Homo sapiens: one gene and its partners. The protein of the gene in region 1 purifies or fractionates together with the protein of each later gene. This does not show direct contact. Each region holds a gene or a part of one and is shown in the gene's direction. Other genes may lie near its edges.

What was found. The genes of interacting proteins can lie anywhere in the genome.
Region 2: the proteins of LRRC52 (region 1) and DIPK1B purify together in Homo sapiens (affinity purification with mass spectrometry; one large-scale study listed by BioGRID and IntAct). This does not show direct contact.
Region 3: the proteins of LRRC52 (region 1) and DIPK1A purify together in Homo sapiens (affinity purification with mass spectrometry; one large-scale study listed by BioGRID and IntAct). This does not show direct contact.
Region 4: the proteins of LRRC52 (region 1) and ILDR2 purify together in Homo sapiens (co-immunoprecipitation; one large-scale study listed by IntAct). This does not show direct contact.

Annotation. Positions count from the first base shown.
Region 1 is NC_000001.11:165,547,000-165,550,499, forward strand, and holds part of LRRC52 (leucine-rich repeat-containing protein 52 precursor), read left to right. Parts: intron 1-3,500. UniProt on the Homo sapiens protein: Auxiliary protein of the large-conductance, voltage and calcium-activated potassium channel (BK alpha).
Region 2 is NC_000009.12:136,715,572-136,719,071, forward strand, and holds part of DIPK1B (divergent protein kinase domain 1B), read left to right. Parts: intron 1-1,710; exon of another isoform or gene 1,711-2,005; coding exon 2,006-2,140; exon of another isoform or gene 2,141-3,500.
Region 3 is NC_000001.11:92,877,963-92,881,462, reverse strand, and holds part of DIPK1A (divergent protein kinase domain 1A), read left to right. Parts: intron 1-3,500.
Region 4 is NC_000001.11:166,920,041-166,923,540, reverse strand, and holds part of ILDR2 (immunoglobulin-like domain-containing receptor 2 isoform 1 precursor), read left to right. Parts: intron 1-348; coding exon of another isoform or gene 349-350; exon of another isoform or gene 351-440; intron 441-731; coding exon 732-948; intron 949-1,090; coding exon of another isoform or gene 1,091-1,169; exon of another isoform or gene 1,170-1,310; intron 1,311-2,161; coding exon 2,162-2,834; coding exon of another isoform or gene 2,835-2,873; exon of another isoform or gene 2,874-3,500. UniProt on the Homo sapiens protein: May be involved in ER stress pathways with effects on lipid homeostasis and insulin secretion. With ILDR1 and LSR, involved in the maintain of the epithelial barrier function through the recruitment of MARVELD2/tricellulin to tricellular tight junctions.

The DNA of each region.
Region 1 (3,500 bases):
ACTGCTAATTTGCTCATCTCCCTCCATTTTTCCACACATGGTACCTCATTTCCTTTAGCATGAGTGTCACACCAACACTTAAACTTGTGCCCTCAGCCTGTGGAAGAGTCTAGGATTGGTATTTTTAACCCTATCCTTGGATGAGAAAATAGACTCACCTGCCCAAAATCACACAGCTGATAAATGGCAAGAAAGTGACTTGAACCCCTTGATTTCAAATGCAGGTCTTTTTCCACAAGACTATACTATCTCGTAAATCCTCAAATTACATAACTATCATCCTGTAAGTGAGTTTAGTTATAAATATAAGTTATATTATAAACATATGGCTACAGCATCTAAACTTCAGCTTTATTTTCTATCTGGCTGCCGCTTGGAACTGGGAAATGATCTTGAGATCATTTTCATTGGATAATAAGCACTAACCGTCATAAATCCATTGATATGCCTGTACTTCCCTTGCAAACCCAGGTTTCACCCCAGTCTACCCCAACTCCAAAAGGGTGAATCTAACCTTAGCATTTGCTCTCATTTGGGCCTTAATCAGTCTGGTTCTTCCTTCCCATACACACATACAATCACAAATATGCACACAAACACACATGCAAACACAAATACCTACACACACATATGCAAACACAAAGGTTTGTATATACCATATATACATATGTTCATACCATATATAAATACATACTTACATACCCACACGTATATACCATTTATACATACATACCTACTTACGTACCCATCCACATATTACATACACACACATAAATGTACAAGTTCACACTCATATACATGAACAGATACATGCATACCCATAAAGTTGAACACACATACAGTAAAATTCATTAGCTGCTTCTCTTGCCTTCTAGCCAAACCTCAATGTAAGGAAAGGTATTTAATTCATTTGACTCTCAAATGATGGTTCATGGTCTCTGCTACGTGGAAATATCTTTGCTATTGGCAAACATTCTTGGTGAAGTTTCAAACTTAAGCCCACCTATTTATACCACATTTGTTATCAAAATGGTGATCTTTGACATATTCTAGCATGGAGCCCATGTATCTCTCTACATATATCCACATTTCAGGAGATAGGAAGATTTCTATGAAATAACCTGAGTTATCTGGTGTTTATAAAACAGAATCCATTTCACAAACAGACTCATTTTAGGCCCAAGGAAATACTGAACCTTAGCCCTGGGAAATTTTCACTGTAGTGTAATATTAAGGGCAATATGAGAGTGCATATATATTCCTTGAAAAGCAATGCAGTGAAGTAAAGGACTTCCATGCTACAATTCAGTTCATCCATTTATCTATTTAAATACTTATTGAGTGCCTACTATGTGCCAAACAAGTGCTCATGAAGGTAACTAACCAAGAAACCTGAGGTTGCATATGGAGACTTACGTAACTCTAGGTCATCTGTGCCATATCTATGTCATAGTTTAGTTGTGCATAACAGAACAAAACAGGGCAGGACAAACGAGGCCAGCATGTGCCTGCTGGGGTGACAGGCACTTGGGGCAGCCACTTGTCCTCCAAGAGATGAAGGACAGTCACCCTCAGGCAGCAGAGCCCAGTGTTAAGAGCTCAGGTTCTGTAATAAAATTGACGGGTTATAATTCTAGCCCTGATGCTGACTATCTGCAGGATATAAGATAAGTTACTTAACCTCTCTGAACTTTAATTTCCTCATCTTGAATACAAGGATAATAATAGAACCAACATTCCTAGGGCTGTCATAAAATGAAATGAGAACATTTATGAAGTACCATTAGCATTTAAGTTTGACACACCATAAGCAATCAAAAAACAAATGGTTGGTAGATGAGGAAAGGTACAGGATACTAAGAGAGTAGAATACCAGAAAGCAGTCAAGTGTTCCCCTAGATAAGCAGTGGACTTCAGGAAGGCTCAGCATACGTGGTGTTAGAGGACAACGCACCCTGTCTAGAAATATGACTATAGAGATGCAGGCGGGAATATAGATAGAATGTGGGAAGGTGGGTAGCTGCTTCTAAGACTCTAATCCATACAAAAATGGGGCAAGGAGAATCCTGGAGGGACAGGACAAGTCTATGTCACATTCTGACTAAGTTGGGTATTATTAGATAAGTTAAGAACATGGGTTTTCAGACCCTAAGGAACAAAAGCAGAAGCTCAAATCAAGACTTTGTCTCAGCCTGGGCCATGAGACTTGGGGCTGGACCAGCAGCAGCAGGGTGCCTGTTCCTGAGTCACCTGAACCTAGAACCAAAGCTCTACCTAAAGACAAGCTCCACTTCCAGAGGCAGGTGTGGATGTGTAGACTACATTCTAGGGATGTGTAGGCAACTTTCTCTAGCCTCAGGAGAAAGACTTCACCTACATGGTATAACTGAGCAATAAATACTTTTGCCCCAATGTGTCCCTATCCACTTCCTACCACTAAGCTGAAATTAGTCACTAGAGGTTCATCCTTTTGGGTCCCAATTATGTGTTATGATCTTGAAAAAGAAACTGCAAAAATACATGAACTCCTGGGAAGAATAAGACAAGTGTCCTTAAGCCTTTATCAGCTCTCATATCAGAAGGAGGAGTTAATTCTTGGGAATTTGATTAGCTAAGATTAATTCTGCAGCAGTGGAGAACCTTGAAGGAAACAGAGGTGCAAGAAGGAAGTGGAGAGGTCTTAAAAGAAAAGACATGAGGGCAATATCATACGCTTCTTCAAAAAATGTGCCACATTTTTGCTAAGGACCTCCCCCATAGAGGGGTTGTAGAGGAAGCCCAGTGTTTCATTCATTTTATTTTATCATAAGGCTACACTGAACAAGAATATCAAAACTTTCTCAAGTTGGCGAGATCTGGCACCATAATCAAAGGTCTGATTCAAAAGAAACTCTCCAATGGCATACTCACCAGATGTACTGAAAAGTATTCAGTTCTCAAAGAGTTAATGTAGTCATTTTTTTAAACACGAAAGTTACAGCAGAAATGGAGGTGTGTTGTAATGTGTCCCTTGCTAGGGTGCTCTATTGAGCCCTGACCAATACAGACTGAAAACAGACCCACACATTCCATTTCCTTTCTGGCCCAGGTTAGCAAGTGGGAGGACTAATTCCTGGCCAGCACTGTTATTTTCCAGTCATTAATGCTACTTGAAGGTGAGAGTGGTCATTGAGTTCTTCCCAGGATATTTGATTTCCCTCAGGGGACAGGGTTGAATGGCTTTCAGGAGGCTCTCGAAAACTCACTCAAACTCTAAGCTCCAAAACATACAAAACCTAGCCTCATACATCCCATTCCCCTCTACCCGCAAAGTCTGCTCTAATGCTGTCCAATAGAAGTTTCTGCAACAGGGTAAATAGTCTATATATATGGTGTCGGATACAGTAGTCACTAGCCGCATGTGGCCATTGAGCTCTTGAAATTTGGCTAGAACAAATGAACTGAATTTTTATTTTATTTTATTTCAATACATTTAAATAGCCACCTAAGGCTACTGGCTA
Region 2 (3,500 bases), on another chromosome or scaffold:
TGGCGCCATCTCAGCTCACCACAACCTCTGCCTCCCGGGTTCAAGCGATTCTCCTGCCTCAGTCTCCCAAGTAGCTGGGATTACAGGCATGCGCCACCATGCCTGGCTAATTTTGTATTTTTAGTAGGGATGGCGTTCCTCCCTGTTGGTCAGGCTGGTCTCCAACTCCCGACCTCAGGTGATCTGCCTGCCTCGGCCTCCCAAAGTTCTGGGATTACAGGGGTGAGCCACCACGCCCGACCTTAATTTTTAACTGCGGTAAGATACACATGGCATAAAGTGTATCATCTTAACCCTGTTTAAGGGCACAGTTTAGTGGTCACCTCCCTCTGTCCGCAGAGCTCTCCGCCTTCCCAAACTGAAGCTCTGTCTGCATCAAACGCACACTCCCAGTCCCTTCCCAGCCCGCGGCTCCCTCTACTCTCCTTCCTGTCTCTATGGTTTTGGCGACTCTGGGGACCTCGTGTAAGTGGGTCCTGCAGGATTTGTGCTTTGGTGACGGGCTCGTTTCACTGAGCCTCTTGTCCTGGGGCTCCTCCCTTCTGGGTGGACATCAGATCTCCTTCCTTCTCAGGACACAGTCACTCCGCAGTGTGGATAGGATAGACGCAGCTGCTCTTCCATCCCCCGGCTGTGAACTTAAGGACTGCCCACCCCTGGGCTGTTGTGAACATCGGTGTCTGAGTCTGTGTCTTTTTTTTTTTTTTTTTTTTTTGAGACAGGGTCTCGCTTTCTCACCCAGGCTGGAGTGTAGCGTGGGGTCACAGCTCACTGCAGCTTCAACCTCCCGGGTTCAATCAATCCTCCAGCCTCAGCCTCCCAAGTAGCTGGGACTACAGGCGTGAGTCACCATGTCCAGCTAATTTTTGTATTTTTAGTAGAGATGGGGTTTTGCCATGTTGCCCAGGCTGGTCTCGAACTCCTGAGCTCAAGCAAGCCACCCACCTCAGCCTCCCAAAGAGCTGGGATCACAGGGTGAGCCACCGCACCCAGCTAATTTTTGTATTTTTGTAGAGGCGGGGTTTCCCTATGTTGCCCAGGATGGTCTCAAACTCCTGGGCTCAAGCAATCTGCCCGCCTCAGCCTCCCCGAGTGCTGGGTTTACAGGGTGAGCCACCATGCCCGGCCCGCCTGCGTCTCTTAAAGGCTTCCAGGATGTGGCTGCGTTGGGCTCCTAGGGCCCCGTTCTCCAAACCTGGTTCTCCTTGTGGGTCTGGTCCGGCCGGAACTTCCCACCAATCTGCATTACGGTGGACGGTGGGAAAAATAGGGGCAGTGTCTCTCGCGGTGGGCGCGCTCACCTGGCCTTGTGCGGAGGTGACGATGTTATGAAATGAGATCAGGATAGGAAGGGTTTGTAAAAATATCTTCATTCGGCCAGGCACAGTGGCTCACACCTGTAATCCCAGCACTTTGGGAGGCCAAGGCAGGTAGATCACCTGAGGTCCGGAGTTCAAGACCAGCCTAGTCAACATGGTGAAACCCCGTCTCTACTAAAAATACAAAAATTAGCTGGTCGTGGTGGTGCATGCCTGTAGTCCCAGTTACTCGGGAGGCTGACGCAGGAGAATCACTTGAACCCGGGAGGCAGAGGTTGCAGTGAGCCGAGATCGCGCCACTGCACTCCAGCCTGGGCTACAGAGTAAGACTCCCTCTCAAAAAAAAAAAAAAAATTTCATTCAGCAGAGGAAAGAATCGGCCACCCTGTAGTCCCCTGGTTTTGACATTTATTTGTACCTGCCCATAACACTGAAAAGTCTGGGCAGCGCCTGCCCCCACCTCCGGCCCCTGCAGCCCCTGGTATGTGACCCTGGAGAGGCAGAGCCAGGAGTGGGTGTCGCTGAGCTGGGGGTGATTCTAGAAGACGGGGGTGCCAGGGGGCCAAGGGGATGGCAGGGGAAGGCTGGGGTGGATCCGGAGGCCCTTCCTGTGGGAAGTGGGGTTGAGAGCACCCTGAGCCTGGGTGCCCCGAGGGCACCTCCTCACGCAGCCCCTTCCCCCACAGGGCCGGCTCCCAGGCCTCAGGGTCCGCTGCATCTTCCTGGCCTGGCTGGGCGTCTTTGCAGGCAGCTGGCTGGTGTACGTGCACTACTCGTCCTACTCGGAGCGCTGTCGCGGCCATGTCTGCCAGGTGGTCATTGTAAGTGTTGCTTGTGCGGGCTGGGGACTGGGCCGTGCCCCCTGCTGCCCAAGATGCTGGGGCACCAGGCCCTGGAGACACCTTCCTCCCCAGACCCAGGGCCCACGAGGCACGTGGGTTTCTAGGTGGAATCTGCAAAGCTGCCTCAGGCTGGGTGTGGAGGACAGGGGTCCAGGGGAGGACGGGGGAGACGTGCGGGGCTGCCTCAGGCTGGGTGTGGAGGATGGGGGTCCAGAGGAGGATGGGGGAGACGTGGGGGCTGGGGGCAGAAGGCAGGGCAGACTCCAGAAATCTTTGGGAGGGAGGATGTTTAGCAGGAAGCCTGGGGTGGGCAGCTGGCCTCACTGCTCCGGGATAGAGACCCCCGTGTGGTGTCCTCACTGGATGGGATAGAGACCCCCGTGTGCTGGCCTCACTGGTCCAGGATAGCGACCCCCGTGTGCTGGCCTCACTGGCCTGGGATAGAGACCACCGTGTGCTGGCCTCACTGGTCCAGGATAGAGACCACTGTGTGCTGGCCTCACTGGTCCGGGATAGAGACCCCCGTGTGCTGGCCTCACTGGTCCGGGATAGAGACCCCCGTGTGCTGGCCTTAGTGGCCTCGCTAGCCCCCCTGGGACCAGGGGTCCCCTGAGGCAGGTGGCAGGGCAAGGTCCTCCACAGCCTCCACCTCAGGGAGATAGGGCTAAGTCCCCTGGCGTATGTGAGCATGTGTGTGTCTGGGAGCAAACGTGTCCACATGAGTGCACACCAAGGTGACCCCCTGCCCCTCTCCACACCCTGTGACTAGCTCAGAGGGGAGGTCATCCCAGCTCTGTCTTCCTGGCAAACCCTAGACTCGCCCAGAACTGGGCAGGTCCCCCACTGAATTTTGACCCCAGGCTGCCCGATGACCAGGGTTCCGATGCCTCCACTCCCCTTGGGGTCAGGCCTGGGCATAGAAGGATCTGGCCTGTAGCAGCGGCCACTGTGGGTTGTCATAGGGTGATTGGGTGCAGGGAGACCCCAGGTTCGGTGTCTCCTCCGTCAGATGGGGAGAGCACCTCTCCTGGCAACTGGGTGGTGGATGAAGCTAGCCGGGTGGGCCTGGGCAGGCCTGTGTCCCACAGAGCCATGTCTGACGGGGGCCACATGTGGAAAGGCCCAGATGTGGCAGTGGAGGACTGGGGTGTGGGGTCCGGAGCTAGGAGAGCTTCTGTGCCCAGGACTTGTTTGGAGCCCATGCCAGCCCAGGGGAGGCCTCCGGGCCCCTGGACCAGGCCTTGCTCACCCTTGAAGTCCAGGGGGCCTCTGAGCCCAGCAGGGCCGGAGGGTGGCACATGGGGCTCGTCCTGGGGCCATGGGTGGGGAAGGCTGTGCC
Region 3 (3,500 bases), about 73 Mb from region 1:
TAAAATCTTTAAACTTGAGATCAAAGAATAATTCAGATTCTTTCTATAAATCCTAAAATTCACCTCTTAAAAAGATTAAGAATGCTAAAACTCTGACCAGTAGACTCATAATGCCTTTTTTTTTTTTTTTTTTTTTGAGACAGAGTCCCCATTCTCAAAATTAAGAACATTTGTGTATGGAGTATTTAGGGGTAAAGTAAAAGGACTTTGTGCTTTACATGTTTATGAAAGATGCAGAGTATTAAAAATAGATAATAGAAGTAGCCTTTTTTTTTTTTTTTTTTTTTTTTGAGACCGAGTCTCGCTCTGTCACCCAGGCTGGAGTGCAGTGGCATGATCTCGGCTCACTACAACCTCCACCTCCCGGGTTCAAGCGATTCTCCTGCCTCAGCCTCCCGAGTAGCTGTGATTACAGGCTCCCGCCACCACACCCAGCTAATTTTATGGGTTTCAGTGTGTTGGCCAGGCTGGTCTCGAACTCCTGACCTCATGATCCGCCTGCCTCAGCCTCCCAAAGTGCTGAGATTACAAGCGTGAGCCACCGCGCCCCGCCAGAAGTAGTTTTTTTGTTTGTTTGTTTGTTTGTTTGTTTGGAGACGGAGTCTCGCTCTGTTGCCCAGGCTGGAGTGCAGTGATGCGATCTCAGCTCAAGGCAACCTCTGCCTCCCGAGTTCAAGCGATTCTCCTGTCCCAGCCTCCCAAGTGGCTGGGATTACAGGTGCACGCCACCACGCCCAGCCAATTTTTTTTGTATTTTTAGTAGAGACAGGGTTTCAGCATATTGGCCAGGATGGGCTCTATCCTTTGGCTCCATGATCCTCCCACCTCAGCCTCCCAAAGTGCTGGGATAACAGGCGTGAGCCACCGCGTGGCCAGAAGTAGTCTTAAATGGCTAAATTTTGGTTGTTGCCTCTTTCTGCCTATTTTTAAAACTTAATGTAAAGTTACAAACAAGATCAAAAATTTTCAGATTTGTTTTGAAATAAGTTATCACAATGAAATCAAACGATATTTTAAAAGAAGAAAAACTATTACTATTTTTTAGAGTAGAATTGGCATTTTGTGTCATCGTGGGCTTACAATAAAATATTGGCAATCATTTACTCTAGTGATAACTGCTTCTGTTATTTCCAGACAGATGTTATTATATTTTTAAAATTACTAATATTTTATGCATTAAAGGCTAATATAAGATAAAATGCTAATGTCATACAAATTTAGCTCTTTCAACCCCACAGTTTTTGTTTTCATTTTATTGTGTAACTGTAAGTTTCTCAAACACATTTTGGGCCTGATAATGCTTTGCTGTGGGGGGCTACATTGTACATTGCAGGATGTTTAGCAGCATCTCTGGCTGCTACCCCACAAGATTTCAGTAGCAGCCTCCAGTTGGGAAACCAAACATGTCTCCAGACATTGCCAAGTGTCCCCTGTGGGGCAAAACTAAGTCCATTTGAGAATCACTGCCATAGTGTATTTACAAAAATTCTTATCATGCTTTTCAGGAACAAAATTAGGAAAAAAGCAACATACCATTACTAGCTAGGCACACAATCTGCCGAACAAAAAACTGCTGGGCAGTCATTGTGAATAGTTCAGCATAAATAAAAAGGTCAGACTACATTTCTTAATCAAAGACTACATTATCTAGGTAATTGGTACAGAACAGACCACTAGAAACATTTTAGTGAGTGGCACACAGGGAAATTAAATTGGTTAATAGCTACAGATGTAATTTATGGCTCTTTCTTCAATCATTATTTTTAAATGTGAGGCTGCAGGATCTGCAGATATTAAAGGACGCATGAAGGTCCTTTTACTACTTTGTGTTACCCCCAAATCACAGCAATTCTCAATGGCATGCTGAAAGAAAAAGGTGTCTCACTCCTTTTATCATTTTGTCTACAACAGGTGATGCCCAGTGCCCTGCTGGGAACATCATCAATCTAACTTCCTCTCAAAAATGTTTGGCATTCTTTGTCATGACAAGTAGGCATCGGGCAGTCCAGTTCATAGGGTTTTTCTCCATTTAAACATATGCCAGAGGAAGTAGAAAAACGTAGCTATTTGATAGGTAGAGAAAAGAAAAATATTTAAATATTGTCACAGAACCATTATCACACCTTAAAAAACTAAAATAATCCTTTACTATCATCAAGTATACTGTCATTCTTAAAATTTTCAATTGTCTTATAAATGTCATTTTTTACAGGTTTTCATTTGAATCAGGACTCAAAAAAGATACATGTGTTGTAATTATTTGATATATTTCTCTCTTTTTTTGCAACAGGGTCTCTCTGTGTCACCCAGGCTGTAGTGCAGTGGTGCGATCTTGGCTCACTGCAACCTCTGCCTCCCAGGCTCAAGCAATCCTCTCACCCTAGCCTCCCAAATAGCTGGGACTACAGGCATGAGCCACTATGCTTGGCTAATTTTTATTTTTATTTTTATTTTTTGAGATGGAGTCTTGCTCTGTCACCCAGGTTGGAATGCAGTGGCACAATCTCGGCTCACTGCAACCTCCGCCCCCCAGGTTCAAGCAGTTTTCCTGCCTCAGCCTCCTGAGTAGCTGGGATTACAGGTGCATGCCACCACACTCGGCTAATTTTTGTTTGTTTGTTTGTTTGTTTGTTTGTTTGTTTTTGAGACAGAGTCTCGCTGTCGCCCAGGCTGGAGTGCAGTGGTGCGATCTCGGCTCACTGCAGGCTCCGCCCCCCGGGGTTCACGCTATTCTCCTGCCTCAGACTCCCGAGTAGCTGGGACTACAGGCCCCCGCCACCTCGCCCGGCTAATTTTTTGTATTTTTAGTAGAGATGGGGTTTCACCGTGTTAGCCAGGATGGTCTCGATCTCCTGACCTCGTGATCCGCCCACCTCGGCCTCCCAAAGTGCTGGGATTACAGGTGTGAGCCACTGCGCCTGGCCTAATTTTTGTATTTTTAGTATAGGCGGGGTTTTACCATGTTGGCCAGGCTGGTCTTGAACTCCTCACCTCAAGTTGTTCGCCTGTCTTGGCCTCCCGAAGTTCTGGGATTACAGGCGTGAGCTCCTGGCTGGCCTTGGCTAATTTTTAAATTTTTTCATAGAGACAATGTCTCACTATATTGTCCAGACTGATCTCAAATTCCTATACTTAAGTGATTCTCCTACCTCAGCCTCCGAAAGTGCTGGGATTACAGATCTAGCCTAATATATATCTTAAATGATTTTTAATCTTTAAGTTTCCCCTTGCCTTTTTTTCCCTTCTTGTAATTTATTTGTTGAAGAAACTGGATTGTTTGTATTGCAGTGTTTCCCACAGCCTGGAGTTTGCTGATTATATCCTTATAGTGTCACTTACTTAAGTGTCACTTGTGTTTCTCTGTCTCATGTATTTCCTGTAAACTGGTAGCTGGAGCTAAAAGGCTTGATCAGATTCAGATTCAGTTTTCTTTTTGGCAAGTCCGAAAAGAAGATGATAGCCACTGACAGTATTGTTGGCTTCTTGCCCAGTGACTTGCA
Region 4 (3,500 bases), 1.4 Mb from region 1:
ACATACCCCTGGAAAACTTTTTTGGGAGAGGGGAAGAGGTCTGCCCAAGTGCTGGAAGTAGGCTTGGTGCTACTTGAGCAGGATCTTCCAGGTTCCTAAATGAGCATGGGCTAAGTCAGGGGGTATATGGATACTAGGTACAGGTTTCCCCTTGACTATTCAACTATTCTGTGGACTTCCTGCTCTGTGGGGAGGGGCACAGCCAAAGGAGGCCAGAATGCAGTGCCTCTACAGCATATGGCAGTACTGGCTCTGAAGGTCCATCTTAGGACTGGGCCAGCAGTAAGGAAGATGCTGTGATCTATGGCTTCTGTCTCTCTTTTTCTGTTTTTGGCTTAACATGTCTAGGATCAACACAGCTCATCACAGAATTATAAAGGAAGAAGAAAACATTTGAACAAGGATGATGATGTACTAGGAGGAGGCCAGCAACAGAGATCCTGAGTTCTGGAAAGCCTGCCTTAGGTGCAACAATAACAAACTTGTTCTCCTATTCCAAGAACAGAGCATGTAGGAACCTCCCTCTCTGTAAGCAAGTAGGCTTCAAACTGGAGCCAATGCCTGCTGAGCTAAGAATACAAACACCACTAGTTCAGGCTTACAACCCACCCTGGACAGCAATGAGGCAGGAGTTTCCTGGAGCCTAGGGTCTCAGCCCTTAACAGGATTCTCTTCCTGTCTAAAACAGAGTAACACAAAAAGCTCTATCATGCCTGATTTTGTCCCTGCAGATAACAACACCATCTCAGAACTCAGCTCCCTACATGAGGAGGACAGCAATTTCCGCCAGTCTTTCCATCAGATGAGAAGCAAGCAGTTCCCTGTGTCTGGGGACTTGGAGAGCAATCCTGACTATTGGTCAGGTGTCATGGGAGGCAGCAGTGGGGCAAGCCGCGGGCCCTCAGCCATGGAGTATAACAAAGAGGATCGAGAGAGCTTCAGGCACAGGTGATGGCTGTGAGGGGCAGGTCTGGTCGGTGTGAGGGGGCAGGAGCTGGAAGGCAGGGTAGATCGGAGGCAAGGAAGATGCCATCCAGTAGCATCTCTGTCTCCCATTCCAGGTTATCCTGACACATCTCTCTTTCTACAGGATATTGAACATCTCACATTTGTCAAGACAGGGAACACTTGTGACAACATGTGTAGAAGTAATTATTCAAGACCTTTGAAATGGGTCCCCTAGACCCTTTAATGAACATTAATATATCTCTGCCCTTCTCATATATTTTATCCTATAACCTCTACAAAATCCCACCCATCATCTCCATCTTTTTTTTGTTTTTTTCGGTAGAGACAGGGTTTTGCCACGTTGACAGACTGGTCTTGAACTCCTGAGCTCAAGCGATCCACCCACCTTGGCCTCCCAAAGTGCTGGGATTACAGGCATGAGCCATCATGCCTGGCCATCTCCCTCATTTTTGATCATTTAGTATATGAAAGGTAAAATGCCAAACACTTCTCTTACATTTAATTCTCATAACTCTAAAGGGCAGCTACTATTAATGCCCCTATTTTAAGCTGGGAAAATGGAAACTTCTAGGTGCTAAGGCACTTACCCAGGTGATGTGGCCTCCCACAACAATTGTGGGAGGCTAAGATTTGCTATTCCCCCTAAATAGCACCTTCACCACTCATCTGTCCTTTACCTTAAAAGACAGTGAACATTGCCTTTCCCTTACAAATTGCAAGTGTCCTTCTCCCCTCCTGCCCCAGTAGGTAACTTGGCCCTTGGCTCTGAGGGAAGAAAAGGCCTCTCTGTGTGTCACCACACATTACAGGGACTCCTGGGACCATAACTGTGTGTACTGACACCTGCGCTGGCTTTGAGGGTGGAGACGTGTGGCTGTCAACCCGAGGTCACAACATAATGACCAGAAGGCAGCCCCACGGTGGGTCAGTATTCCATAGGATACAGAATATGTTCTATCCACACAACCCCATTTTGATGCGTGGCACACGAGTGGAATAGACTCGGTTGCCCCTACTTGACGTTCTGGGGTGTGAGAGGAGCCTGGAATGCTTCATCCAGCCTGGAGCGGAGCTGAGGCTCAGGCCGAGGTCTCCTGAGCGTGGCCCCAGGACACGATGGGTGCTCTTGGGAGCCCTACCTGGAGCTCCAGGGAGGGACCGGCCGTCTGACCCCCTCCTTCTCTGCCCGCAGCCAGCCGCGCTCCAAGTCGGAGATGCTGTCGCGGAAGAACTTCGCCACGGGGGTGCCGGCCGTTTCCATGGACGAGCTGGCGGCCTTCGCTGACTCCTACGGCCAGCGGCCCCGCCGGGCAGACGGCAACAGTCACGAGGCGCGGGGCGGGAGCCGCTTCGAGCGCTCGGAGTCGCGGGCGCACAGCGGCTTCTACCAGGACGACTCCTTGGAGGAGTACTACGGTCAGCGCAGCCGCAGCCGCGAGCCCCTGACCGATGCTGACCGCGGCTGGGCCTTCAGCCCCGCGCGCCGCAGACCCGCCGAGGACGCGCACCTGCCGCGGCTGGTGAGCCGCACGCCAGGCACCGCACCCAAATACGACCACTCGTACCTGGGCAGCGCGCGGGAGCGCCAGGCGCGGCCCGAGGGCGCCAGCCGCGGTGGCAGCCTGGAGACGCCATCCAAGCGGAGCGCGCAGCTCGGCCCGCGCAGCGCCTCCTACTACGCTTGGTCGCCGCCCGGCACCTACAAGGCCGGCTCGTCGCAGGACGACCAGGAGGACGCGTCCGACGACGCGCTGCCGCCCTACAGCGAGCTGGAGCTGACCCGCGGCCCGTCCTACCGCGGCCGCGACCTGCCCTACCACAGCAACTCGGAGAAGAAGAGGAAAAAGGAGCCCGCCAAGAAAACCGTGAGACTGCGTCTGCCTCCCCTCCTCCGAGGGGACTGAGCGGGAGCCTCCAGGCAGGGCGAGCAGTGTCGCTGTCTGGGGGCCGGGGAGGTGGCGAGGCGGGAGGGTCCTTGCCGGAGAGGCCGCAGGGGCCTGCCTGGGCGAGTTCGTCCGCGGATGCTAGGCCGGGGGCTTTTTCAGCCTCACTCTGTCCAAGGCCAGATGAAGGAAGGAAGCAAGGGCTGGGAGAGTTGAAAAACAGGCAGAAAGTTGAAGGCGTGTATATGGTTTTACAGGGAGCATTAGGTATTTAACCAACTCAGAAGCCTTTAGCATCAGGGATCTCGGGAGCCATCACCACCACCGGCCTTTAGTGGGCTTCTGAGGTCTGTGTGCAGAATCTTCGATGCATCCTTCTATGTGCATTCCTCCCCAGCCCTGCTTGGGGCGAGGGTTTGTAACTTGCATCCGATTTCCAAGAACCCACATCCCAGAGAAGGCTAAGAGCCACTGCTGTTTGCAAAGGACAACTCATGTCTGTCCTCTTTTGATGTTTTATTGAGTGTAAACTGCATTGTGCCCGTATATGTGAAGGAAATCCTTTGGTCCCTATCCAGTTCATTGTCTCTTTTGTAAGTGGTCTTATATAGACTTCATTATTTTCAAAATGCCAAGAGCTGCCTACTC